Linked DNA regions of Homo sapiens: regions 2, 3, 4 and 5 are each linked to region 1. Evidence: fine-mapped expression QTL. A gene starts in region 1. Each other region holds a variant in brackets. All regions are shown on one strand. Distances are between the middles of the regions.

Region 1 (5,101 bases):
ATGCTGGCTTTCCATTTATGGTAATAATTTAACATATCTTTTTAAAAACAAGCTCACTTAAGTAAATTAAAAAAGAATGAAAAAATAAGAGTTGATTTAGAGAAGCCTATTCAGCAGATGTCCTTAGCTAATGCACAGATAGGGCCAGGTCCTCCATGGAGGCTGGAGAGAGGCTGAGGTCCAGGAAACTGACTTGGAACTGGAGTCAGGGACCGAGCTGGTTGTCTAAGTTGTGCAGCGGGTCTGCACTCTCTTCCCCTGCGCCTGCCCCGTTCTGCCAAGCCCCAGACCCTTAGAGACTCTATCCCTCTCTCTGCCTGTCTCTGGTCTCCACTTCCCCAGCTCCAGCACCCTTGCTGTGGGCTTCCCGTTTTTCCTCTTTAAATGTATGTGGCGCCTGGTGTCCAAGGAGGCTCACACGGGGCCTCTCCCAGCAGCATTCCACAAGTGCAGGGCCTGTGGGGTGTTCAGCCTCCACCCTCCATTCTGTTTTGGCAGCTGAAGGGTGAATGTGGAGCCCTTCTCCTTGTCCTCCTCTTATAGAAATTCCACCATTAGGGACTTCCTCCCCTTGGGTGAAGCTTTGCTCACTCTGGGTCCCTTTGAAACCGCGGATCCAGGGATTTTTCTTCCAGCCACGTGCCTACTCTAAGAGTCCCGGTGACGCGGTGAAGTTCTTTAAAGGACCAGACATCCCTGAAGTCCTTACAGGGACATCCCCTTACAGGGACGAATCCATTTCCTGGAATGTGGGCAAGGAAAGGCAGCCACTTCCTGCCTCTCAAAACTCTGGCTGGTGGCTGGGTGCAGTGGCTACGTCTGTCATCTCAGCACTTTGGGAGACTGAGGTGGGAGGATCACTTGAGGCCAGGAATTGGAGACCAGCCTGGGCAACATGGTAAGAGTCCAGCTCTACAAAACACACACGCACACACACACACACACACACACACACACACACACACACACCAAAAACAACAGAAAACATTAGCCAGGCATGATGGCACATGCCTCTGGTCCCAGCTACTCGAGGGGGCTGAGTTGGAAGGATTGGATTGCTTGAGCCCAGGAGGTCGAGCCTACAGTAAGCCGTGCAGGAGGTCGGGCTACAGTGAGCTGTGCTTGTTGACCAGGCTTGTCCAGCCTGGTCAGCAGAGCGAGACCTTGTCTCAAAAACAAAACAAAAACAAAACAAGAAGATCCCCCTCCCCCCAAACTCTGCCCAGTGGCCTGACTACCAACATCCATATACAAGACAGGAGTAGGGTCAACTCCTTCCTATCAGTCACCCCTTAGTGAGAATCAGCTGGCCAAGGGGCCTCCTGCAGAGCTGATGTGTGCTTGAATGCCTAGGGCCCACGGGGATGGGGTGTGGAAGCTTCAAGCTGGGACTCAAAACAGAGTTGCCAAGGGAAGAGGAGTGGGCGACCCGAGCCCCTGTCATCAGTACTTTCACTTGGGCTGTCAGTTTTGATCTGCTTGCTTGTCCGTTTTGTCTGGGGCAGGGTCGGGTAGTTGTTTAGAGGAGGCTCAGAGGTTAAAAGTCTCAGGCAAGTCATGTCAGGGGTTGGGAGCCAGTGCTGCTGTGGCAGCAGTACAGAGAAGAAAAGATAAGCTCCCCAGCCCCGCAAGAACCTCAGCCCTGAGGCCGGAGACACAGATCTGGCCCCTTGCAATCAAGTCATTTGCATCTGACCTGGGGTCAGGCCCCTCCATGCAGGAAGTCCCCTTTCTTATCTGCAAGTCAGAGGAGGGTGAGTTCCCCAGGCTTTCAACAGGTACTTCCCCCGGCAGCGGGAAGCCCAGGAGCCCGATCAGGACCGAGGATCTCACCCCAACCCCTGCGTTTGGGCCCCGGGGTCAGCTGAAAGTTCCCCTGGAATAAACACTTCGGGTCCAGCATGCCCCTCTCCCCACTCCCGCAACGATCTTCCGAATTCAGACGCAGAGAGGGCCCGCGAGCAGAGCGGGAGGTGGTCGGAGGCGGAGGAAGGGGAGATGGGCAGAGGGTGGGCCCAGGGACCCCCAGACAAGGCCTGGACGCGGGGTTGGAGGAGGAGGCGGAGGCTGGCGGGAGGCGAGGGGCAGCCCGCAGAGGAGACGCGCTTCTCGGCAGCAACGGCGTCTGGAGCCGGGAGGGGCGGAGGTTTGGGGAGGGGGAGGGAGGGCGGGGGAGGGGAGGGACGGACGGCGGCGGAGGTGGGGCCGGCGGGCTGGCGGGCGTGCAGCTGCCGCCGGCGTCGCGGGGCTCCAGGCTGCGGGGCGGACGTAGCGCCGAGCGATCCACCGCGGAGCCGCGCGAGGCCGCCCGAGCCCCAGCCCCGGCCCCGGCCCCAGCCCCGGCCCCGGCCCCGGCCCCGGCCCCGGCCCCGGTCCCGGCCCCGAGCCCCGAGCGAGCGCCGCCGCCTCGCGCTGCGGGTCCCCGGACGCGCCGCCACCGCCGGGAAGGCAGCCGGCGCCGGGCAAGTTGCGAGCGCGCCCCTCCGACCAGGAAAGTTTCCCCCCGGCCGCCGGCGGGATTTGGCGCGGGGTCCGGCAGCCGCCGCTGGAAGGTATGGGGCTCCGCACCTCCGTGCCCTCCGCACGCCGCCGCCGCGCCCCCGGGGACCTGGGGACCCCCCCGCGCGCCGCCCCGGGGGTGCTGCTGGACGCGGCGGGGAATTGGGGTGGAGTAGGGATCCCAGGACGGAAGCCCGGCAACCAAGTTCCACTCAAACTAGCACGCGGGGGCTGGGGGGCCGGGGACGGTCTCCACCCCGTGCCTGCCCGGAGTCCGCTGAGGGCCGGGGGCTGCGCCCAGGACAGGTGCAGAGCCGGTGGGCTCCCAGTGCTCCGGGTGGAGGAGTGGGGGCTTCTGGAGAACGGCGCGGGGTGGCAGGTGTGGTTACAAGGTTCGGGGTTTCGGCCAGGGCTGCGCCCGGAAAGGGGCTGCTCGCCACGCCACCCGGTAAGACAGTGAGGGACCAGGGACTGGGAGCGGCGATCGGGGCCGGGAGGGCTGTGGGGCCCGGCAGCTGCATGGAGGGCGGGCTGCCTTTGGGGTCCCTGGCAGCGGGGCGGGGCGGGGCGGAGGCGCCACTCGTTCCTCCAGGACCCCCCTTATTCCTTAGGTGTGTGCGGTTTGGGGAAGTGGAGACTCCATGGAGTGCTGGGTGGGTGGGAGGCTCGGGCACGTCCAGATTTAGGGGGCAGTGGGAGCCAGTTGGGACGGTGCTCGGCTCGGGTGGGATCGCGCCGGCTCCGGGTCCTGCTGGAGTGAGGTGACTGGGCTCCCGCCAGGGGGCGCACTGCCCCGGCCCTCGCCAGCAGGAAGCGCGTTCTGGCTCCTGCGAGGCAACCGCGCCGACATCCAGGACGCAGGGACCACAGACACCCAACTTACGCGGGGTCCCGCCCCGAGGAGCCCGCCCTACACTAGCCAGACGGGGGAGCGGGACCAAGAGTGAGGCGAAAGGTTCACAGTTATAACTGCGCCGTGGGCTGGAAAGGCTAGGAGTCAGGATGTGATTTTTCTCGGGAAGGCTGCCAGGGCAAATGGATGAGTAAGAAATTTACCCCCAGAAAAAGATGTAAGAAACTACAACTGCGAATTGGTGCAGAGAGAGTGGGTTGGGGAATTAACTTTTTGACGGTTTTTGGAGTTGCAGAAACCCAAACCCCAAAATGCATGCACCCTTTTTGTAAAAGTTGCACCTTTGTTTCCTGGATCTGGTCGAATCCCTGTCTGGTGAAGGCAGGATGGGGGTCTTGGGGTATCCTCTCTCTGGGCACAAGTAAACTGGGAGGCACAGGGCGGGCGGTGGGGGATGGGGCCTTAAAGACTTCAGCAGTCCAGGCAGAAGTGTTAAATTTCTCAGCAGTCAACGAGCCCTGGCCCCCACCCTCATCCCCTGGGTCTGTGGTCTCTAGGCCACATTCTTCTGGTCATTTCACAATTATTGGTGGAAATCTGCCCTGGGTCCCAGTTGTCTGGCCTCAGGGTCCCTGTATGTTGAGTCTGTGTGTCTGTGCCTTGGGAAGTCGACGGCTGCTGGCATCTGTGAGGACTGTCATCTTTGTCATGTGCGGGGCTAACATTGAAGGGACATTGGAGGGACTATTGCCTCATCTTTCTCTCCAGTTCCCTCCCTCCTCCCATCACCCCAAGTGAGTGCAAAGGAGCAAATCATAGATTGTGCCGTGGCCTCATTGTGGTTGGTAGAAGTTTTCATCTTTCTCTTAGCTGGTAACCTGTGCTCCTTGGGCAGCCCCCCTCCTGCTCCCATGTCCTTAATGTCCCTTACAAAGGTGGGGGAAATGGGGGTCCCTGAAAGAGATGAGGTTCCTCTGTTCAATGTAGTCTGCCACATGTTTTTGTTGGATGCTACTGAAATGCTCCAGGACAAAGTTGCCATAAAGACAGATCAGCATGATTTTTATTTTGAATAGAAGAGGAGGAGGAGAGAGGAGAGAAAGGAAAGGGTGGAGAAGCCTGCTGTGTCTGGATAGGTCTTTAAGACATTCCAGGGGGCTGGAAAACAAAAGAAGTTTTTTTTTGTTGTGTTTTGCTTTTAGTGACTCTTGTTTTTCTGTGGAGGGAAGCCTGCATGGACCAGCCCTGCCTTGGAACCTGCCTGGGAGCATGGGGCCCCTAGAAGGCCAGCGTTTCCCGTGTTCTGTCCCTCCCCTCTTCTCCCTACCCCCACCCCACTTTTCCTGAATTGGAGAGGGAGTTGAAGGTCCCCAAGGGCTACTAAAGTCTGTGTTTGGGCTTAAAGTATCTTGTGTGGGCTCAGTCTTCTCCCAGGCAAACTCCAAGATCTCTGATTTAGCAACATTTCAAGTCTTGGGCACTCTGTTTCCTTGTCTCCCTTGTCCCCAAACCCATTCAAACAGCCAGTATATGTGGTGCTTTTACCCAACCCCAGTCTGAAATGGTAGCACATCATTGAAAGCTCCAGGACACTTTCTAGAAGCCGAAGTTAGTTGGGTTTAGGATACCTTGGGGTTGGGTTTAGGACACCTTGGGCTGAGTCCAGGAAGGAACCCTCTGCCCTTTAAAAAATGAGATTTTAATGGTCTGAGGGGTGTGTTGGAGGGCAGGGTGCTGGGTAGGGACACA
Region 2 (5,101 bases), 27 kb after region 1:
AAATTATTTGGACATGATGGCAGGTGCCTGTAATCCCAGCTACTCAGGAAGCTGAGGCAGGAGAATCCCTTGAACCTGGGAGGCGGAGGTTTCAATGAGTCAAGATCACACCACCGCACTCCAGCCTGGGTGACAGAGCAGGACTCCATCTCAAAAAAAAAAAAAAGAAGTCATATATATCTCAGCTACCTAAAGCTAATATTTTGCGTATGTTTCTTCCCAGTTTTTTCCCTGTGTGTTGTGTATGTTTGCATGTTGTTAAGTAAAATATATGAGAAGCCAGTGTTTTGGACTGAACTCTAGCACTAGGCCCCAACACACCAACCCAAAATGGAGTCATTCAAGCTGAAGTGTCACATTATCAAACTAAAACCTAAATTGTTTACTTGTAAGATCTGACCTTCCAGGAAATCAGGAGGAAGATGATAGCTAAATCTCCAAAACAGGCTAGTTTTAGCTGATGTGATGAAGTCCTCTCTGTTTTAACCGATACAAGGAAAGTGACTTTAAATGACCAATCCACATTTTGTTCTTTGTTTCTGCCTTCTTTAGCCTTTTCCTGTCTATAAAGCCCATCCCTTCTATTCAGCTCAGCAGAACAACTTTCTTTCTTTCTTTTTTTTTTGACACAGGGTCTCACTCTGTTGCCCAGGCTGAAGCGCAGTGACTCTATCTTGGCAACAGAGCACCTTTCTGTTTTGTAGATGGGATGCTGCCCAATTCATGAATCACAATAAAAACAAATGAGATCTTTACAACTCAATTTGTTGAAATTTCATTTCTTTGACAGTTTGTGTGTGTGTGTGTGTGCACGTGCACATGTATGCATACATATATCTCTATATAAATGAGTATGTATTGTCAGTATAATTTAAACAATAAAGCCATGATTCTCATAAATCTAGAATGAACATGAGTCAAAGATTGATTTAATGAGGAGGCCAGCAAGATGGAAAAGCTAGCTCTCAGGAGAATTCAAGGAACAGTGATTATGTAGGCATTGGAGAAAGAATGCCTGAATATGATGGCTGGATTGGATATAAAACTGGTTAATGCCCTATAAGGCAGAAAACCATAACCTTGGGGTTTATCTGTTTTACTAGCCAAAAAAATCTACAAGTTCATGTGTAACTTTATACAAAGTTACATTCCTCTAGAATCCCCTGGGTAATTACAGGATTCTTGGGTAGGCTTGCTAAACAGTACTCCAATATGAGGTTGAAATGACACAGACCTCTCTTTGCCTTTTGCCACATTACAGATGACTTTTCTTAACAGTATCCATATATTCTTTTTGATCACATGCTAGAAAACACTGCGGACCTCACCTTTCTCACTTGATATTATAGCGCATCCATTTTCTTTTCTTTTTGAGACAGAGTCTTACTCTATCACTCAGGCTGGAGTGCAGTGGTGCCATCTCGGCTCACTGCAACCTCCGACTCCCTGGTTCAAGCGATTCTCCTGCCTCAACCTCCCGAGTAGCTGGGATTACAGGCATGCACCACCACCACACCCAGCTAATTTTTGTATTTTTAGTAGAGACAGGGTTTCACCATGTTGGCCAGGATGGTCTTGATCTCCTGACCTCACGATCCGCCCGCCTCAGCCTCCCAAAGTGCTGGGATTACAGGCGTTTGAGCCACCGCACTCAGCCAGCGCATCCATTTTCAAAAGAAAGTTTTGATCTGCTCATAAACCCAGCTTGACTCACCCTCTGTGGGTGCCCCCAGCATCTTCCTGGGGGTCCCAGGGTAGCTGGACTCGCCGCTGCCACCCTCACATTTTATTGTAATCTCCAATTTCCCTGTCTCTTTCTCCATTCGAACTGAGTTTTTTGAGATCATGGATTTGCTGAGCTGAACTGGCTTCCTGATCCCATCGTCCCAAGCATCTATTATGTGAGCACATAGTGATCGACTTCAGTGTGGCTTGCTGAGTGAATACACATGGATTTTAAGAAGCCTGGCTTTCGTCAGTTACAAAAGGATGAGCTGTGCTGTTAGGGATCGGCAGGGACTCCTCTTCTGGAGTATTTGAGTCAAAGCAGCTCCCACCTCTCATGCAGGGTGACAGCCTATCCACTACTCCCATCTCTAATTCTGCCATTTAATTGTATTTGGACGCAACACACTTAGTCTAGAAAACCAGTCATGCGTCTTTTCACTAGGACTCCCTTGACCGAGCTCTCTGGTTTTCTAACTTTCTTTGCTAATCAAGGTCTTAAAGGGGTAAAAAGTTCTTGGCCTCCTAAAGCTTAGGAGGGACAAGTGTGACTTGAAGGATTAATCTCCACGCTATGAATTTTAAAGCTCTCTGGTTCCATGTG[C/T]TGGGAAAAGCCATCAAAATGCTAATGACTCTGTGGTCTTGCCTCCTGCGGACCTTTTCTGCATTAGAATATATTTACATGGACTTGAGCAGGGAAGCATTACAAAGAGTTGGGGTGCAGTTTTCCCAGTATTCCGCTGCAGCCCTGTGGGTTATAAAGTCTGAATTAATAGCCCCAGTTGCGGCCTTCAGCTTCCTTGCTAGCTGCAGGGTGGCCAGTTTAGAAACATCTCTATTACTGGCGTGTGGCTTTTTAATACTGCTTCTCTCCGAGGCAGACTATCCTTGGGCATGCGTTCCTGTGTGTTTAATACTGCACATTGCATCCACGTGGAGTTCAGGGTCTGGAACATGTTGAGACACAATTCATACCAAAGCCAACTTCAGCACTGAGACAGTCTCTGTTCTTCTTGAACCATGTGCCAAAGCACTGGCTGTGCTTGTAACCTTTGAAAGCCTGGTATCTTTGCTCAAACAGCCCAATGACCCAAGATGTAAGATCTCAGATGTATCCTTGAGAGGATTAATACTATGGTGTTGGCCACACCTGGCCTCTAATGCAGGCTGGAGTTAATGAGTGCCGTGGCTTGGGCAGCTTTGGCTCTGTGACTGTGGTTAAGATGCCTGACTCCTCTGAGCTGTGCGGTGTAGGAGAAAGAAGAGTGCAGTTTAGATGAAAAGGGAGGTCCAGTGGATAGTCCTTGTCCTTACCTCCTTGAAGTGATGAGAAAGTGCTTTCAGACAGCACAAAGAGGGAGCAGATGTGGGACAATGCCCACCGATGGCAAGAGGTTTTGGGCTGCCACAGGCTACACATGCTCTTTCCTACTCAGTTGACCAGTGCGGCTGTGTCTGTCTATGGCAGGTCCTACACAGGAGGGCACACAGAGACCCTGGCTGGCATGTGCTGTCTGCAGAAAAGCCCCAGACCAGATGGGAGGCGTGAGGGGAAATGATTCTTAACAGCAGTTGCATTGAGAATAAACAGTCTCAGGCAATCATTTATGGGGATTGGGACATTCCCTCCCTCCCTGGCCCTTCCACCCTCCTCATCCCACCAAGAGCTAATGGGCTCAGATCGGAAGGCCCATGCTTCTGGGTAGACCCTTGGGGCCCCTTGCTGGCAGTGCCCAGAGCCTGCTGCACTGTGTCAAGTACAGTAAGGAACAGCCTCCTCTTTCTGAGCAGGAATAGATCCCCATCTTTCTGAGGATGTCATGGTTTCACTTCAGCCCCACTGAGACCCTGAGGCACAATTAACCAGGCTGATTGGGACTCATTCTGGGAACAAAGGGTGCTGGGCCCAGTGACAGGACGAGCAGGTGGGAAGCGCTTCCCTCCCCCAGCCAGACAAGTGCAGGTGGAGAGCCCGGCAGACACTGCAAGGTTCTCAGCGCTCAGGTGGCTTCATTAAGGGCTGCCCTGGGGTTTGCTGAGCTGGGGACGCAGCCCCAAGACATCCTGAGCATGCCTTGGCTCTCCTCCCTCTCCCCTGCCCCCACACCAACCCCCTATGTAGCTAATTTAAAACAAAGCAAAACAAAGCCCTGGCTTTGCTTTGGAGCCATAAATTGCAGAGCTTTTATCTGTCAACAAGCAATGCATCAGGCTGGCAGTGGCCCAGCCTGGATCCTGTGGCCTGGCATCGGCTTGGGAGACGAGGTCTGAGGCTGAGCTGGCATCCAGGGTCTCCCTGAGGACGCTGCTCCTTCTTGGGGCATAAGGCCAAATTCTTATGGCCTCGGGACTCAGAAGGGTGGCTATTTCTCCTAGGAGCCAGGAAGAGATGTAGGGTGACTAGGGTTGGGAGTACAGAGCCAGGGTGGGGAGAAGGGGAGACAGAGAGAGAAATGGAGAGAGAGGGAAAGAGAGATGGAGAGAGAGATGGAGGAGGGAAGAGGGAGATGGAGAGAGAGTTTGCCAACAGAAGCTAACCAGGGAAAGGCTTATCACTGGGTTGGTCAACTCTCTCTCTTCCTTTGTTCCTTGCTGCCTCTTCCAGGAAGTCTTCCTGGCTCTCTTCCTCCTCTGAAATCCGACTGACTTGGGATTCTAGGACAACAGGAGACTCTAAACCAGTGGTCTTCAATGTTATCTGGAAAGTTAATATATAAATTATTGTGAAGTCCAATTGTTGTGAATTAAGTGTGTTGTGTGTGTGTGGAGGGGTGTAGCCCCCATCTGTTCTTTGTGAGAACAAAAAGGAGGGAGGGAGGGAGGGAGGGAAGGGTTCCCAGGAGAATAACTTGGAATCATGAATCATAGCTACTCCCTTTTTTTCCCCATTTTTTTTTAGTTGTCATAAAATACAACATAAAATTTACCATCTCGGCCATTTTTAAGTACACAGTTCAGTTATTTTAAATACATTCATAATGTTGTGCAACCGTCCATGCCATCCATCTCCATAACTCTTTTTATTTTGTAAAATGGAAAATCTATATCCATTAAGCAATAATTCTTCCCATTTTCCTCTCCTCCCAGCCCCTGGTAACCTCCATTCTATTTCTGGTCTCTGTGATTTTAACTATTCTACATGTTTCATGTAAGTGGAATCATGCAGTATTTGTCTTTTGTGACTGGCTTTCTAAAATTTAGCATAGCATTTTCAAGGTTCATCTATGTTGCAGCGTGTCAGAATTTCCTTCTTTTTTAAGGTTCACTAATACTCCATTGTGTAGATAGACCACATTTTGCTTATCCATTCATCTGTTGATGGACACTTGAGTTATTTGCATGTTTTAGCTGTTGTGAATAATCCTACTCTGAATAT
Region 3 (5,101 bases), 46 kb before region 1:
CTTACTGCAACCTCCACCTTGTGGGTTCAAATGATTCTCCTGCCTCAGCCTCCTGAGCAGCTGGGATTACATGTGCGCACAACCACGCCCAGCTAATTTGTGTTTTTAGTAGAGATGGGGTTTCACCATATTGGCCAGGATGGTCTCAATCTCTTGACCTTGTGATCCATCTGCATCAGCCTCCCAAAGTTCTGGGATTACAGGTGTGAGCCACCGTGCCCAGCCACCATTATATCATTCTTATGCCTTTGCATCTCCGTAGCTTAGCTCCCACTTATAAGTAAGAACATATGGTATTTGGTTTTCCATTCCTGAGTTACTTCACTTAGAATAATGGCCTCCAGCGCCATCCAAGTTGCCGCAAAAGACATTATCCCATCCTTTTTTACGGCTGAGTAGTATTCCATGGTGTATATATACCACATTTTCTTTATCCGCTCGTTGATTGAATATCGTTGGTTCCATATTTTGGAACATGATTGGTTGAATATGATTAGTTCCATATTTTGGCAATTGTGAGCTGTGCTGCTATGCCCATATGCATGCAGGTGTCTTATTCGTATAATGACTTTCTTTTCCTTTGGGTAGATACCCAGCAATGGGATTGCTGGATGGAACGGTAGCTCTATTTTTAGTTCTCTAAGGTATTTCCACACTGTCTTCCATAGTGGTTGTACTAGTTTACATTCCCACTAGCAGAGTAAAAGTGTTCCATTTTCACCACATCCACATCAACATCTATTATTTTTTGACTTTTTAATTATGGCCATTCTTGCAGGAGTACTGTGGTAGCTCATTGTGGTGTTCATTTGCATTTCCCTGATAATTAGTGATGTTGGGCATTTTTTTTTCATATGTTTGTTGGCTGTTTGTATCCATACGTCTTTTTTTTTTTTTTTTTAATTGACGCAGAGTTTTGCTCTTGTCACCCAGGCTGGAGTGCAATAGTACGATCTCGGCTCACTACAACCTCCGCCTCCTGGGTTCAAGCGATTCTCCTCCTCAGCCTCCCGAGTAGCTGGGATTACAGGTGCCCACCACCACGCCCAGCTAATTTTTGTATTTTTAGTAGAAACAGGGTTTCGACATGTTGGCAAGGCTGATCTCGAACTCCTGACATCAAGTAATCTGCCCACCTTGGCCTCCCAAATTGTTGGGATTACAGGCATCAGCCACTGCACCCAGCCCATATGTCTTTTTAATTTCAAAGTGTCTTTATTTTTTGCTTCTATTTCTTTCCTGAGAGCTGGTGTCTTTCTGTCTGTTGCCTCATAAGTGCTTTATGGAAACCTTGACATCTTTTAGCTCATTAAGGAGGTTGGGTCGTGTGCAATCTCTTTGAGTACCTGGAGCACTGTGTGTCTGACTCTCCCTCTGTGTTTTTTGTTTGTTTAATAAGTCCTCTCCTGACGTCAGTTCTTGTGGTCTTTGCTTACGTTCCTTACCTCTATTGCCTTTTTGTTTTCTTTAGTCCCTTTTTGGTTCCTTTGTGATTATCATTCACCTTAGAACACAGCCAGTCATTTGTTGCAGGATGATATTGAAGAGAGAGGTATGCAACCCAGAAAGTGACTAGGGTTTGTTTCCAGCAGACATGCTCTTTCCAAATCCTTTATTGTTATTCCTTGGACATACATCACCTCCCACTTCAGCACTGAGGTTTGCCAAGACTCAGCAAAGGCCTTCAAACGTCCTCCTTCCTCTACTTCGCCCCAGCAGTCTCCTGGTGCTGGGAGGAGTTGGGTGCCAGGCAGGAGACATGGACGGTCAGCACGTCCCGTCTCGCCCCCCACTGTCCTGTGCTATTGAACTGGGTCTACAGAAGGATGTTTCTCATGACCCTGCAGCCTGAGCTGCCCCCAGACCCTATCATCCACAGAGGAGGCCTCCCAGTGGTGCTGTCTGTAGGGAGACTGGCTTCCTCCTCGTCTCTCTGTGCCCTCTTCATATTTGTGGCATTTAGCAGCATGTATACTTTCTGGTTTAATAAAAAATGGCACCTGTAATCTCAGCACTTTGGGAGGCCTAGGTGGGCAGATCACCTGAGTACAGGAGTTAGAGACCAGCCTGGCCAACATGGTGAAACCCCATCTCTACTAAAAATACAAAAATTAGCTGGGTGTGGTGGCAGGTACCTGTAGTCCCAGCTACTAGGGAGGCTGAGGCAGGAGAATCACTTGAACCCAGGAGGTAGAGATTGCAGTGAGCCAAGATCGTGCCATGGCACTCCAGCCTGGGTGACTTCTCTCAAAAAAAAAGAAAAAAAAAAAGGAGGTCTTGCTCTATTTTTTCCCCCCAAATTCGTTATTGTTTTCAGTGGGATTTGGGTGCAAGGAGCAGAGTAAACAGGCCTTCAGTAAACAGGCCCAAATGCATTCCTAAGTTTCCTCTTTTCTCTCAGGCCACCCTTTCTTGGCATCCCTCGCCCCCATCCCCCTCTCTTCAGCCATGAAATGCAGAAAGAGAGGAGGTACCTCCCTGAAGGCCATGCTAGTAAGGGGAGGAGTCAGGACACCCCGCCCAGGCACTCTGGCTCCCCAGCAAAAGGATGTGGGTTTCTCAGGTGTGGCTGTTTCCACTGGGCAG[G/A]GCCTGACCTGCAGCTCCTGAAAAGCCACTGTTCTGTCTTCCTGGCTTCTTCAAGTCAGAGTCCCAGAGATAATCACCGTGGGCTCCACGCAGCAGAGAGGGACTTGATCCAACACTCTTTTATCGGCCTCAGGGCCTGGGAGGGTTTCTCAGCATCCAAGAATCCTGGAGAGTGACTCCTGGAACATTACAGGGGCTGTGGTGAAAGACACACCAGTGTCGGAATATAAACCAGCCCCCAGGAAACTGCTTCTAGCCACGCCCTGCCTGAGAAGCCTCAGGGTTTCCTGGAGAGTCTGGGTGGTTTCACCCCACAGCCAAGGAATAGCTAACAGTGAGGACTGGAGAGACCCCACAGCCTGGGACCTGCATTCAAGCGCCGACTCCACCCTTGATTGACCTGCAGGGCACCTGGGGAAGCCACCACCCTCTCTTGCCTCTGTGTCTCCATCTGCCCCATGGGTGGGGTGGCCTGGAGGATCCCTGAGTCTCTGCTGGTGCTGGTGCTCCAGGATTCTGGGACCCCTCCAAGCTCCCTCCCAGGGGCTTGCCCTGCTCTTCACTCCCCCTATAATCCCACTTGGGTGGCTGGTTGGGGATCATTCCCTGAGACCTCTCCTGGATGTGTCTGAAAAGGCCCCTCAGGACCTGCAGCTAGGGCCAGCTGGGCAGCAATGTGGTGTTTGCTTCTGCAACCTTCAGGTCACCATAATGACTCACTCTTCCTTGCCAGTGGAGGAGAGCTTAGGGCTTCCCTTCCCCCAAGAAGCAACTTCATGGTCAGTGAACTTCACAGTGAATTCTAAGAAAGCCTCTCGGCCAAGGGCAGATTTATAGCCCTACATTTGCTCCTTCAGCTATTCCACAGCCAATCTCTTCTTATTCCAGAGGCATAACCTCAAGTCGGCCTAGGAACAGTCACTCGGAGACTAAGTTATGAGACCTAGTTGAGATCTGGGCTATGGTAGAAGGCTGGGATAACAAGTAGCCTTTGACTCTTGTCTCTAGCCACCAAGACCTTTGGTCTTCCTGTCAACCTCTTGCCTCCTTTCTTCTATCCTTACTTATGAAAGGAAAAGATGGACCCTTCATTCATCAATCCATCACTCACACATCCAACTATCCATTATGTACCCATTCACCTACCCACCTATCTATCCATCATCCATCCATCCACCCATTCATCCATCATCTATCCATCTATCCATTTATCCATCCATACATCCACCCATCCACCCATCCTTCCATCCTTCCATTTATCCATTCTAAGACTATCCATCCAGCCTCTATTAATCATCCATCCTTCTCCCTTTATCACCCATCCATATTCTCATCCTTTCACTCATTATCCATTCATCCATCATCTGTTCATTTAGTCATCCCTCCCTCACTCTGCACATCCCTTGTTCAAAAAGCCACAGGCTTAATAACAATAGCAATTATACTACAAACAGTTATAGCCACTATTTATGGAAAGCTTACTTTGCATCAGTCACTGTGCTAATTGCTTTCTTGCATTATCTCATCTCACCTACCACTATCCAAAGGGTCCCATGTCACAGATGAGGAAACTGTGATCAATAATCACCTAAATACTCCCTTAGAGATACAAATATGAAGAAGATAGTGTTTCTCTGACTTCCAGCACTCACCATGGAATGAAGGGGACTGACCAGTGAAAATACAGGGTATCCATGAAGTCCAGAAGCCTAGAAAGTCATAACAATGTATGTATATGTTACATATGAAAGATGTCTTTGACAATATTCTGTATGTTTGCCTGTTTCCAGATTTTATGGACACCCTGTACAGTAGAAATACAAAGTGACAGATGCTCAAACAGGACCAGATAAAACATCCTGTAGAAGCATTGCAAGAAGATAAGGGCACGGGGAGAGGAGAGGATGATGCTAGAGTAGCCAGGGAAGGCTTCACTGCAGAAGTAATATGTGAGCTGAGTGTGATTTTGCTAAGCAGAGAAGGGCTTTGCTGGTAGAAACCAGCAAGTAAAAGGGCATGGAGGCATGAATTGAAGACCTGATCAGAGAAATGCAAATCACTTTTAGTGTTTGCAATAAAGGAGTCATGGGAGAACCTGGGCAACATGAGACCTTCAAAAAAGGCCACCTTGAGCCCATGGGTGTCATTAGAATGACATGGGTATCAGAAATAAATGACCCAGTGCTGCCCAGTTGACATGCTATCTTTAGATGGGGAAAAATAACAGATTACTAAATAGCCTAGTCACTATTATCCGATTTTGTGCTGTAAAGTGCATACAGTCATCTTTCAGTATCCCTACAGGATTGGTTCCAGGATCCCCTGTGGATACCAAAATCCACAGATACTCAAGTCCCTTATATAAAATGGAGTCATATTTGCATATAACTTATGCACATCCTCCCATATACTTCAAATCATCTCTAGATTACTTATAATACTTAATACAATGTAAATGCTACATAAATAGTTGCTGTAGTATATTTTTAACTTGTATTATTTTTATTGTTGCATT
Region 4 (5,101 bases), 33 kb before region 1:
TACTAAGACTGGAAAGCGACGGTGGTGGTGGTGAGGTAGGGATGGCAAGACCCTAGGAAGCTGCTTAAACTGCAGGAGGAAGTATCCCTAATTAAACTTCACATGGTGCATCGTTCTGACGTGTTTTCTGATTCTGGTACAAATATGCTGAAGATTGCTGTGCACTGGTTTTCAAATTGTGCTCCAAGGAACCCCTGGAGTCTGGAGATGTGGGGGTGGCCCCCCTGGAGTCAGTGGCAGCATGATTTTTGCCTGTTTTATTGACACTTTAGTTTATGTTTCTATAAAATGGCAATAATCATGGCTATTCGTAAGATTATTTTTAGTCATAAATTAGATTATCCATGAGAAGGGCCTGGCACATAGGACATGCTCAAACATTGTTGGCTAGGGTTATTATTTATTACTTTGTATAAGAAATTAGTTGAGGCCGGGTGCAGTGGGTCACACCTGTATTCCCAGCACTTTGGGAGGCCGAGGCGGGCGGATCACCTGAGGTCAGGAGTTCAACCAGCCTGGCCAATATGGTGAAACCCTGTATCTACTAAAAATACAAAAAAATTAGCTGGTTGTGGTGGCGCGCACCTACTCGGGAGGCTGAGGCATGAGAATTGCTTGAAGCTGGGAGGCAGAGGTTGTAGTGAGCTGAGATGGTGCAACTGCACTTCAGCCTGGGTGACAGAGCAAGACTCTGCCTCAAAAACAAAAAAACAAACAAAAAGAAATTATTTGAAATAAGCATTCTGTGGGTTAAAGCAGTTTGAACTGACTGGTTGATCCAAACAAAGGGTCTAGGAGTCTGGAGACCCAGTACCACTCGGCAACTAGGGGATGGACCCTGGGCAAGTCCTGGGCTCCTCCTGCAGACGGGACCCTCCCACCCCAGTGCTCTTATATCACCTGAAAAATAGGCCCCTTCCACCCCCAGCCCTAAAGACACAGCCCCATGTCAGAGCGCGTGGCTGGGCAGGATTTCAACCTGACCCTTGAGTTGGGTGCCCTTCTGCAATGCAGGCCCCGCCTAGCTTTCTGGTCTCAGTCTCCCCTTTGTTTAGGTGCGGGTCACACAGCACCCCGTCTGTCCATCAGCGTGGTTGTGACTGTGGATGTGGGTGACTCTGTCAGGATTCTGCCCCTGCTGTGCCTGTTTTGCCAGGGAGCAGGACTGTTGCTGTGGTGAGGTGACCAGCTGGGAGTCACGGGTGATGGCAACGCAGGACTGGCAGGGTGGGAAGGGGGAAGCAGGAGCCCCCGGGAAGATGAGCTGGATAGCTCTTGCCTGGCCCCAGGGAGAGGCCTGGGGTGGGGGGTGTCCGTCTGCCATCTTCCCCGACCCGGCCTCACCCCAGGGGCTGACAGATACCCCACTGATTGACTGGGCCCCTGAGAGGCCCTCCTGCCACGTCCTTAGACAAGGCCTTTGACCTCCTGCTCTGTACAGGCAGCCAAAAGGGGCACAGGGAAGGTGGGGAGGTGACAGTCCTCCACCTCCACCAGCCCTGGGGCAGCCTCTTGTCCACCCCTTCTGAGACGTCATGGAGGGCCCCTGCTTCCATTATTCATGAGCCACAGCCTTAGAAGCCTGACACTGCAGACTGGGTGCTTTCCACCTCTCTCTGACTAGTCCTTTCGACAGCCTGGTGCAGGAGTTCCCAAACATGCCTGATCACTAGAATCAACTGGGGCACTTGTCAAAAATATGGCTTCCAGACCGGGCATGGTGGCTCACATCTGTAATCCCAGGACTTTGGGAGACCGAGGCGGGTGGGTCAGTTGAGGCCAGGAGTTTGAGACCAGCCTGGCCAACATGGTGAAACCCCATCTCTACTAAAAATACAAAAATTAGCTAGACATGGTGGTGCATGCCTGTAATCCCAGCTACTTGGGTGGCTGAGGCAGGAGAATCGCTTGAGCCCAGAAGGTAGAAGTTGCAGTGAGCTCTGGGTGAGCTCCAGTCTGGGTGACAAAGTGAGACTCTGCCTGAAAAAAATGGTCTCCAAAGTCTCATTCCCCTTGCATCCCAATTCAGTGGATAAAGGTGGGGCCCAGGAACCTGCATTTTACCAGCACCTCAAATGATCTGATGAACACTGAAGTTGGAGAGTCACATAGCCATTGAGATTAAAGGGGTGGGCTATGGATCCTTTCTGACCTGGGTTAGATGCTTTGTGGCACTGGGCCAATGACTTACCCTCTCTGGTTGTATCTGAGACAAAATGGGGACAACATAATCACCACCTCAGAGAGACCTTGCAAAGCCTGAGACCAGGCAGGAGCAGCCCTTACAACTGTGCCTGATAAGGATCAGCAGATGGCAGTGACCACTGGTCTTTTTATGATTATTAATGTCATAGCTAACCCCTGCCTGCACAAGGACACTGCGTGGCTTAAGTGAAGAAGGCAGGACTCACAGGGCATATGTTCCAGCATCTAGTCCCACATTTTATCTGCTTCCAGGGCCCCAGGATGA[G/A]AGCTTAGCCCTGTCCACCCTGAGGGCCTGTTAATGCCATTAGTTCTGCCGGCCTCAATCCCCTCCCACCTCACTCAACACCTCCCTCTCCAGAGCTCCATCAGGCCGCCCGTCTGCTTCTCCCATCAGGGCTGCCGCACGTGCTGCCCTCTTTGGGGTGGGGGTAGTCAATCCCACTTCAGGTGATGAGTGGGGAGCTGCAGCAGGCCCTGGGCTGGGGGCTAGGGAAGGGGCCCCGAGTTGGGAGCTGGGGAGGGCAGGGAGTGCATGGGGGGTAGGGGCTCTGCCCGGATGCCCCTGTTCAGGGTCTGCCCTTGGTTCTGAGCCAGTGCCAAGTCTCAAGCTCTCACCTGGACTGGGCAGACGTTGGGATGGGGTTGCCTGAGTGGAGACTGAGGTGGGGGGATATAAAAGAGTTAAAATCTTTTCCCCCACAACCTACCAGCCTCCTCCCCTGCTTCCCCCAGCCTGAGGGTGTGAGATCCCAAGATGCAGAAACCAGGTGTCTGCACCAGCTCCACAGCATGTGCTGGGCCTGCAAAAGAAGTTGCCTCACAGTCCTCCAACCTGAGAGGGCTTCCCACAGGGGAAGGCTGAGAGGCGGGCAGATCTGAGTTCAATTCCCGGCCCTACTGCAGCATGTTCTGCTGCACTAGGCCTTGACTTCCTTGTCTATAAATTGGGCATCACAAAAGGCCCACAGGACTCCTGTCAGGATGTCAGGATGTGTGACGATGCTGAGTGGTGCACACGGTGCGTGCTTCACTCACGTGGGGCCGCCTTTGCATACCTGCGCCGCACAAACCACGTTAATGGAAAACGAAACCAAATCACAATCCCCCACCAGCTGGGCTTCTCTGTAAATTAACTGTCCTCGTTCTCCCTGACCCCTCAGTCCTTGTCCCCACTGGGATATAATGCTTACAGTGTTGCAGTGTGACCTAGGGCCAGGGCTGCTGTCTAGATGTGTTTCCTACTTACCCTCATATCACAATGTTTTCTCTGCACTGCAGGCTTCATTCGTTGTTTTTGATCCAGTACGAAACTTCTGAATGCCCCAATGCATGAGGCCCTAGGTTACCCTCTTGAACATCCACTCACAGCTTTTCTTTTCCAAGAGCTCCAACAAGTTCCAGAGGTGTTTTTTGTTTGTTTTCTCTCCCTTTGTCTCTGAATTCTATTAATCATGATCCCTTATTCACGCCATCCTCTTGCCATAGGTTCATAAACGGTTCTCCTCTGTTTATTTATATAAATAAACACCCAAGACCTGGTCATCCAACACAAGAATCAGAACATTAACCAGCACTTGCATCTGTCTGTGGGCTTCTTCCCTGTCTGACCATCAGCCTCCCCTACCCAAGGAAGCCACTATCCTGAAGCTTTCTGTAGGTCACATGATCATCCCTAAACAAATCACTGTGGCCTGGGGGACAGAACAGGCTGATTGGCCAGGTCTGGATCAGGTGATCATACTTGGAGTCAGGGCCTGGGGTAGAATTAGCCCCATGCAATGCACGTGGGTGGAGGGGAGTGAGGGTTGGGTGGTTTCCCAAAGGCAATCTGAAGGGCCAGGGAAAACAAGAGCCATCAACCGCACTTTGTCCCAGGCTCAGTGTCACTTGAACCAAGTCTTCCCACAGCACCACAGGGCTCAGGCTTGCCCTGCTGACCCCCAAGGCCTGGACCTGAAGCTCCTGGAAGAACAAGAGTTGATGAGAAAGGACATTCTCACTTCCTCCCACGGTCTGGAGCCACAGGCTGGAATCTCCAGCCCCACCTCAGCTGAAGGAGTGGGGAAAGGAGGCTGTCTCTGGGGGACTCGTAGAGGGCAGGGCAGCAGGCTGGGGTGGACAGGGTCCTGCTGTTTGACTCCTCCTGCTCCTCCTCCTCATTATTATCATGTCCTCAGGGCATGACCCAGGTCATCTCATTTAGTCTTCCCATGGTTTTATGTGGAGGGTCATTATTATCCCCCTCTCAGAGCTGAAGCTTCCAAGGCTGGCTAGTGAGAGACTGGCATGTGTTTACCCAGCAAAGCGGGGTCAAGCAGAGCCGTAGAGTCCTAGAGCCAGGTGGCCCTGTGGGACTGGCTTAACCCTTACGTTGGGGAACCCAGAGCCCAGACAGGTTAGATTCCCTGTCCCAGGGCCTACAGTGAGTGATGGCTCATAGCCTGACTCCTAATTCAGGGCCTGCTCCATGAAGCCAGATGAACCCAGGTGTGAGACCCGGCTTCTCCCCTTCTGATTACTTAAAGTCTGTGTCCCTCGGTGACCTCGTCCGCAAAAGAGGATGGCAATGGGCCCCACGTGGGAGCTTACCGTGAGGTTAATCACGTTCTCACCTGCAAGGTGCTCAGCATAGTGACTGGCACATGGCGAAGGCTCACGAGTGAGGGCCCTTTTCAAGATCATCATTTAGCCCCATGTTTCTCCACCTGCAACACGGGAAGAAGAGAGGCTCAAGTCATCTAAGGGGTGCGGCCATGCTTCAGAAAAATGTAATATTGAAATAGTCCCAGAGAGGTAGTACAATGTGGTGATTAAGAACGCAGACCCTGGGACCGGCCGAGGTTCCAGTCCCCACTCTGCCATGTATAAGCTGAGCTTTCTTGAGCAAATTCCTTAA
Region 5 (5,101 bases), 140 kb after region 1:
AGGGGAGCAGAGGGGGACGGGCACTGGTTGAGTGGAAGCTCCGTCTCTGGGGGCACGAGGGTACACGTGGCCAGGCCAGCCTGGCAGCCCTGCTGCCCTCCGCCGCGGCAGCTCTGTCCTACATTTAGGGTGCGATGTGTGATTTCATTTGAGCAAATATTCCTCTGCAGAAAAAATACCGAAAACCACAGCTTGTGATGCTGCCTCCCAGGCAGCTGCCCCTTGCTTGGTTTTGGTCAACCACAAACCTCCTGGCCCTCCCCCAGTCTCTCTCGCTCTGTGTCTCGCCTGTGGGCTCCAAAGCTCTGACTCACCATGCAGCCAGCTCAGCGCTCAGCACCACCCTGCCTTATATGGTGAGCTCAGCACCTCTGGGTCAATGAGTGTTAATTCATTTATTCAGCCAATGGCTGTTGAGTGCCTATCATGTGCCAGGAGCTGTTTAAATGCTGGGGATTGAGGGTGAGCAAAGCCCAAAGGTCCCTGTCCTCAGGGTTCCCTGACCTCTCCTCTGGGAGATCTCCTGAGGGCAGGACCCTCCTCTGGGTGTCTTGCCCCCAACCCCTCGCCTGATGTCTCAGACAGTGCTAAACCATAACTGGGCTGGCTTGGTAGATATGTCGGTCAGTTACTTTCCACAGCATTTTGTAAAGCCCCCACCTGTGCCTGATGCAGCAGAAATAGCAGAATGACTTGGTTCTCAGCCTTTAGGACTTAGGGTGTAAGGTGCCACTTGTCATGGCCCTGGGGAGGAGGAAGGGCAGCTGTTAGAGAGATCTGTATGCAGACCTGCTCCTGGAGTGTGCACCTGTTAATAAAACGAATCATACAAGCTCCACTTCCCAGGCATTCGTCATTCATTCAGATGCACTCAACAGGCACCTCAGAGGCCAGATTTTTAAGGGAGACGATCAAAGTCAAGACATCCAAGGTAAAGAATGGGAGGGTCCAGAGCTGAAATATAAAGGAAGGCTTGGGGGTTCAGAGGCCAGAAGGAGATGTTACTGCTGCACAGTGGTGGTGTAAAATCAGGGGATGCAAGGCCTGTGAGCTGTGCCTAGATATAGGCCAGTTTCGGACGTTAGAAAGGACATTCGGGAGGAAGACACAGTGAGAGCAAAGGCCTGGCAGTGGGACCCTGAGGCTTGAAAGACTGTGCCAGGCAGGAAGCCAGATGAACTCGGTTAGCCTTCTTTCCCGCAGGCCTCCAGGCTTGGCCGTGCTGGGCCTGGGGCCATCTTGTCTTCAAGGCTGCTTTCAACTACAGCTTGGGTACGGAGTTTAGTAGCGCCTCCCTTTTCCTTTTGTCCTCTTCTTCCCTGGGAAGGGGAGTTTTGGAGGGCCCTTTCAAAGAGATGGTGCTGCACAAAGACCAAGAGTTCTTAATCCTCTCATTCCTGAGATACTTTACAGAGCTTAGGGCTCATTTTCACTTAGAGCATTGCAAGCAGCTGCCCTAGTGGCATACCCTGGGCTGGAAGTTGGGAGACTTGGGTCCCTGCTGCACTACTGATGTCCTTAGCCTCCTGGCCTATAGTTTGTCAAGCTCCTTCCGCTTGAAACATTGTATTCCATGTCAGACCTGGGTTCGGATCTGAGCTCTGCTAGCAGTACAGCCTCAGTATTCTTATAAGTAAGTTAGAGATAGTAATAGTCACTTCTCGTAAGACTGTGTGAAGATGGAAGGAAATACTTGAATGACAGAAAGTGCTTAACAGAGCACCTGCCAGGGATCAGCATTCAGTGTAGTACTGATGCTATTTGGTGTTGTTATTATTTATATTTCAATCATATTAATATAACTCTGTGGGAGTCTTCAGTGTATAGGTGCCTGTTGGTCCATGTCCCAAAAAACTTGGTGATGGGGACCGGGCACGGTGGTTCATGCCTATAATCCCAGCATTTTGGGAGGCTGAGGCGGGCGGATCTCAAGGTCAGGAGTTCGAGAGCAGCCTGGCCAACATAGTGAAACCCCGTCTCTACTAAAAATACAAAAATTAGCCGGGTGTGGTGGCATTCGCCTGTAGTCCCAGCTACTTGGGAGGCTGAGGTGGGAGAATTGCTTGAACCTGGAAGGCAGAGGTTGCAGTGAGCCAAGACCGCACCACTGCACTCCAGCCTGGGTGACTGAGTGAGACTCCGTCTCAAAAAAAAAAAAAAAAAAAACTTGGTGATGGGGTGGGGTGTCACACCCCTCCCATCTCCGAAAAGTGTTGGGGTTGGGGCTGCCTTACCCAGAATCACATTTATTCATTCATTCACCAACACTTCATTGAGCACTTACTGTGTGCCTGGGCCTCTGAGAGGCACGTGGGGTCCTATTGGATAGGATGCTCAGGGTCCCTGCTCTCGGCAGCTCAGGTCTTCAGGCTGAGGCCTTGGGGAAAATCCCACCCCAGCTTCCCATGGCACCCGAAGCTTTGTTCAACCCTCCCTTGCCATCTTGGGCCTAAGGCCTGGGTGAAATGCCAGAGCATCCACTAAAATGGACTGGTCCAGTGTTGCACATGGACCTTATGGGGTGGATTGCCAAGTCCCAGTTCAGCATCAGGAAAACTAAGTGTTTCACGGGGAAGATGGGCTTGCCCTGGGTGCCAATGGCAAGGTCCTGTTTCATTTTTCACCCCCCTTTGATGCTTCTTTGGATCCTGAACTGCAAAGGGTTTTGATTATTTCTGGAGGACGCCAAGCCTGTACATGGAAGGTGCTGGGGGTCCAGTCTGCCCCTGTGTTTGCCTGGCGGTCTCCTTGTGGGTATCTCACCCTCTCTGGTCTCTGGCAGCCAGCAGAGCCTGCCATGTGGGGCATCAGCCAGAGGTTGGTGAATGGATGGATGGGTGGAAGGATCACAGTGGATTTACT[G/A]GAATCGGTGTTGTCCCAGCCTCAGCCGGGGTGGTTGGACATACCAATCTCTTGGCTTGTTTTTCTGTGACAATTTGATTTTGGCTCCCGTGGAATATAAGGAATTTTCAAGTAGTGGAATGGACTCAAAACAAATGGCTTTTGAGCTGATTAAGTTTCTCAGTTTGATTTCAGGGAGGCAGCCTGGTGTGTACCCTGATTTAAGGACAGAGCTTGCAAACGCCAGCTCTGAGGCTGGGTGACCTTGGGCGTGTTATTGAGTCTCTCTCAAATTCTCAACTCTCATCTAGAAAATGGTAGCACTAATGGCATCATAGGGCTGCGATGAGCTTTAAATTAAATAATGAGTGTTAAAACAGTTGCAGAGCTCTGGGCACGTGGTAAATGCTCAAGAAAGGATGATGATGGTGTATTTAATGAACACCCTTAAGCTATTTGTTGCATCTTCTTGCTCCCACACGGGTTTTTCCAGACTACTTTGCATTTGTAAGACAAAAAAGTTACTTTGAAAAGTTATTATTACACAAGCAATATAGGCTTCTTAAAAATTCAAATGATCTGGAAGGATTTAAATTAAAAAGCAAATTCCTCTTCCCTCCACCTGCCAACCCCATCAGTCCCTTTTCCTAGCAACATTCTCTTTGAATGTGGGGTTCTTCAAGACTAGAACTTTTCTTCTTTTTTTTCTCTCCTTAAGGACAGGGGACAGCTATGCAGTCAGGAGGGGACAGTAGCCTGGTGGCTGTTGCAGCCAGTTGTCATCCAGGCTAAAAGTCCTGAGGCTGGTGCCAAGGGGTCTCAGTGGAGCAGGAACAGGAGCAGGAGCAGTCGGGTCCCTTAGGCAGCCTGGCTTCCCCAGCACTGTTTGCTCTGAGTCACAGGGGTCTCCAGCACTCTATGGGGTCTCAGAGTCCTGGGGATGGGAGTGGCCTGAGCCGAACCACATTCAGTCCAGGCTTGGAGTGCCAGCCTCACAAACAATGTGGATGGCCACCTGCTGGGGGCCCCTCTTCTGTCACAGTGCCCCAGGGCTCAGTCCAGCTCCAGCTTCTGTGACCCCGGCAGCACAATCGATTGTTCCTGCTCACCTTCTGACAGTCTGCACTCCCAGCTGTGCCCTCTGCTGCCACACTCGGGCACAGGCCCAGGTCCAAGTGAACACAATTGGCATTAGGTTCCAGCAGGACTGGCATGGGGCCCAGCACATCATCGGTGCTAAATGGACTTGCAGCAGGTACGAGGTGTGCCGTCTGCCTTTACTTCTCTAAATCTGATTAAATCTGCCTTCAGCTCCCTCCACGAATTTGAAAGACATTCAATCCCAATTATGTTGGGGAGTGGATTTCTTGCCACCTAGGATCACATAGGAGTCTTGGTGGCCTTATGTGATCCGAAACATTTGGGAAAGGCTGCTGGACTTGAGCCCACACAGGGGCCCCGCAGACAGGCTTCTTTGCCAATCTCAGGGTCTAATGAGGCCAGGTGGGCAGCAGCTATTTCTGTGCTAGCCAGGGCACAGCTGTGGTCTTTGGTTGCAACTCCGAGCTATGAGCTTCGGTGTTCAGTCTCCCAACCATTCTCTGGCATCTCAGGATCACTCCATTAAAGCCTGATCACCTCTTGGAAGAGCTGTTCCGGGAACAGGGCACCTGAGCTTGTAACTTTTGGATCCTACCAATCTGGCTGATCTCCAGAAACACTCTCCACCCCTCCCCTCAAGCCTGCTGCCTCTGCTGCCCTCCTCTGCAGGCTCACACTGCAGCCACCTTCATGGGCTTCAGCCTAAGCTGTCTTCCTAGACCCAGCCATTTTCTGACTGGCCTGGGAAACCAGCCGCCCCCAAGGCATAGGACCCAAAGACTTGGCCACCATCTTCGGAAAGAAGAGAGAAGAATGCCCACTGCAGAGTGAACAAATTGGGGAAAAAAAGTCTCAAGACATAATCCTGTCACTCTCATTGGCTGCAACAAATGCATCAATACCTTTCATTCAAGTATTGATTGAACACCAACCTTAAATCAGATTCTTTCAGAGACTGGAGGTAAAAAAATAATAAAAGACCAACCTCAAGTTGCTCAGGGTTTAAATAGTGGTTCTCAAACATGATCCTCAGACCAGCATCACCAGCATCTCCTGGGAACCTGGATATGCAGATTTTCAGACCTCCACTCCAGACCCACTGAATCAGAAACTTGAGAGTGGTGAGGCCCGGCACCCTGGGTTTTGACAAGCCCTCCAG

Alleles and levels. Positions count from the first base shown, and alleles are read on the strand shown. Sizes are in standard deviations (SD) of each study's normalised expression. Not every link is listed here.
For the expression in tibial artery of the gene that starts at base 2,227 in region 1, allele G in region 5 goes with a higher level than allele A (small effect, 0.26 SD a copy in GTEx).

Evidence for each region. PIP is the estimated chance that this variant, and not a neighbour inherited with it, causes the effect.
Region 2: its variant is fine-mapped to the expression of TSPAN18 in whole blood (TOPMed, PIP above 0.99).
Region 3: its variant is fine-mapped to the expression of TSPAN18 in whole blood (TOPMed, PIP above 0.99).
Region 4: its variant is fine-mapped to the expression of TSPAN18 in whole blood (TOPMed, PIP above 0.99).
Region 5: its variant is fine-mapped to the expression of TSPAN18 in tibial artery (GTEx, PIP above 0.99).

The regions. Positions count from the first base shown.
Region 1 is chr11:44,724,736-44,729,836 of GRCh38, forward strand. TSPAN18 (tetraspanin 18) reads left to right here and starts at 2,227. Exons shown (of 10, transcript NM_130783.5): 1 at 2,227-2,552. All of the region lies in intron 2 of TSPAN18-AS1 (TSPAN18 antisense RNA 1), which reads right to left. RefSeq lists enhancers at 755-1,615, 1,616-2,477, 1,844-2,013, 3,729-4,231, 4,232-4,732 and silencers at 2,204-2,353, 3,190-3,359.
Region 2 is chr11:44,751,775-44,756,875 of GRCh38, forward strand. The region is part of intron 1 of TSPAN18 (tetraspanin 18); the gene reads left to right. Among named protein-coding and RNA genes, the nearest start is that of TSPAN18-AS1, 18 kb to the left of the region's middle. RefSeq lists enhancers at 1,120-1,928, 1,929-2,735. The variant C/T (reference allele first, on the strand shown) is at 2,330.
Region 3 is chr11:44,678,596-44,683,696 of GRCh38, forward strand. No RefSeq gene overlaps it. Among named protein-coding and RNA genes, the nearest start is that of LINC02704, 20 kb to the right of the region's middle. The variant G/A (reference allele first, on the strand shown) is at 2,587.
Region 4 is chr11:44,691,404-44,696,504 of GRCh38, forward strand. LINC02704 (long intergenic non-protein coding RNA 2704) reads right to left here. Exons shown (of 3, transcript XR_931234.3): 2 at 4,818-4,910. Among named protein-coding and RNA genes, the nearest start is that of LINC02704, 7.4 kb to the right of the region's middle. RefSeq lists an enhancer at 727-1,227. The variant G/A (reference allele first, on the strand shown) is at 2,471.
Region 5 is chr11:44,862,141-44,867,241 of GRCh38, forward strand. All of the region lies in intron 3 of TSPAN18 (tetraspanin 18), which reads left to right. Among named protein-coding and RNA genes, the nearest start is that of TP53I11, 86 kb to the right of the region's middle. RefSeq lists enhancers at 1-613, 714-763. The variant G/A (reference allele first, on the strand shown) is at 2,863.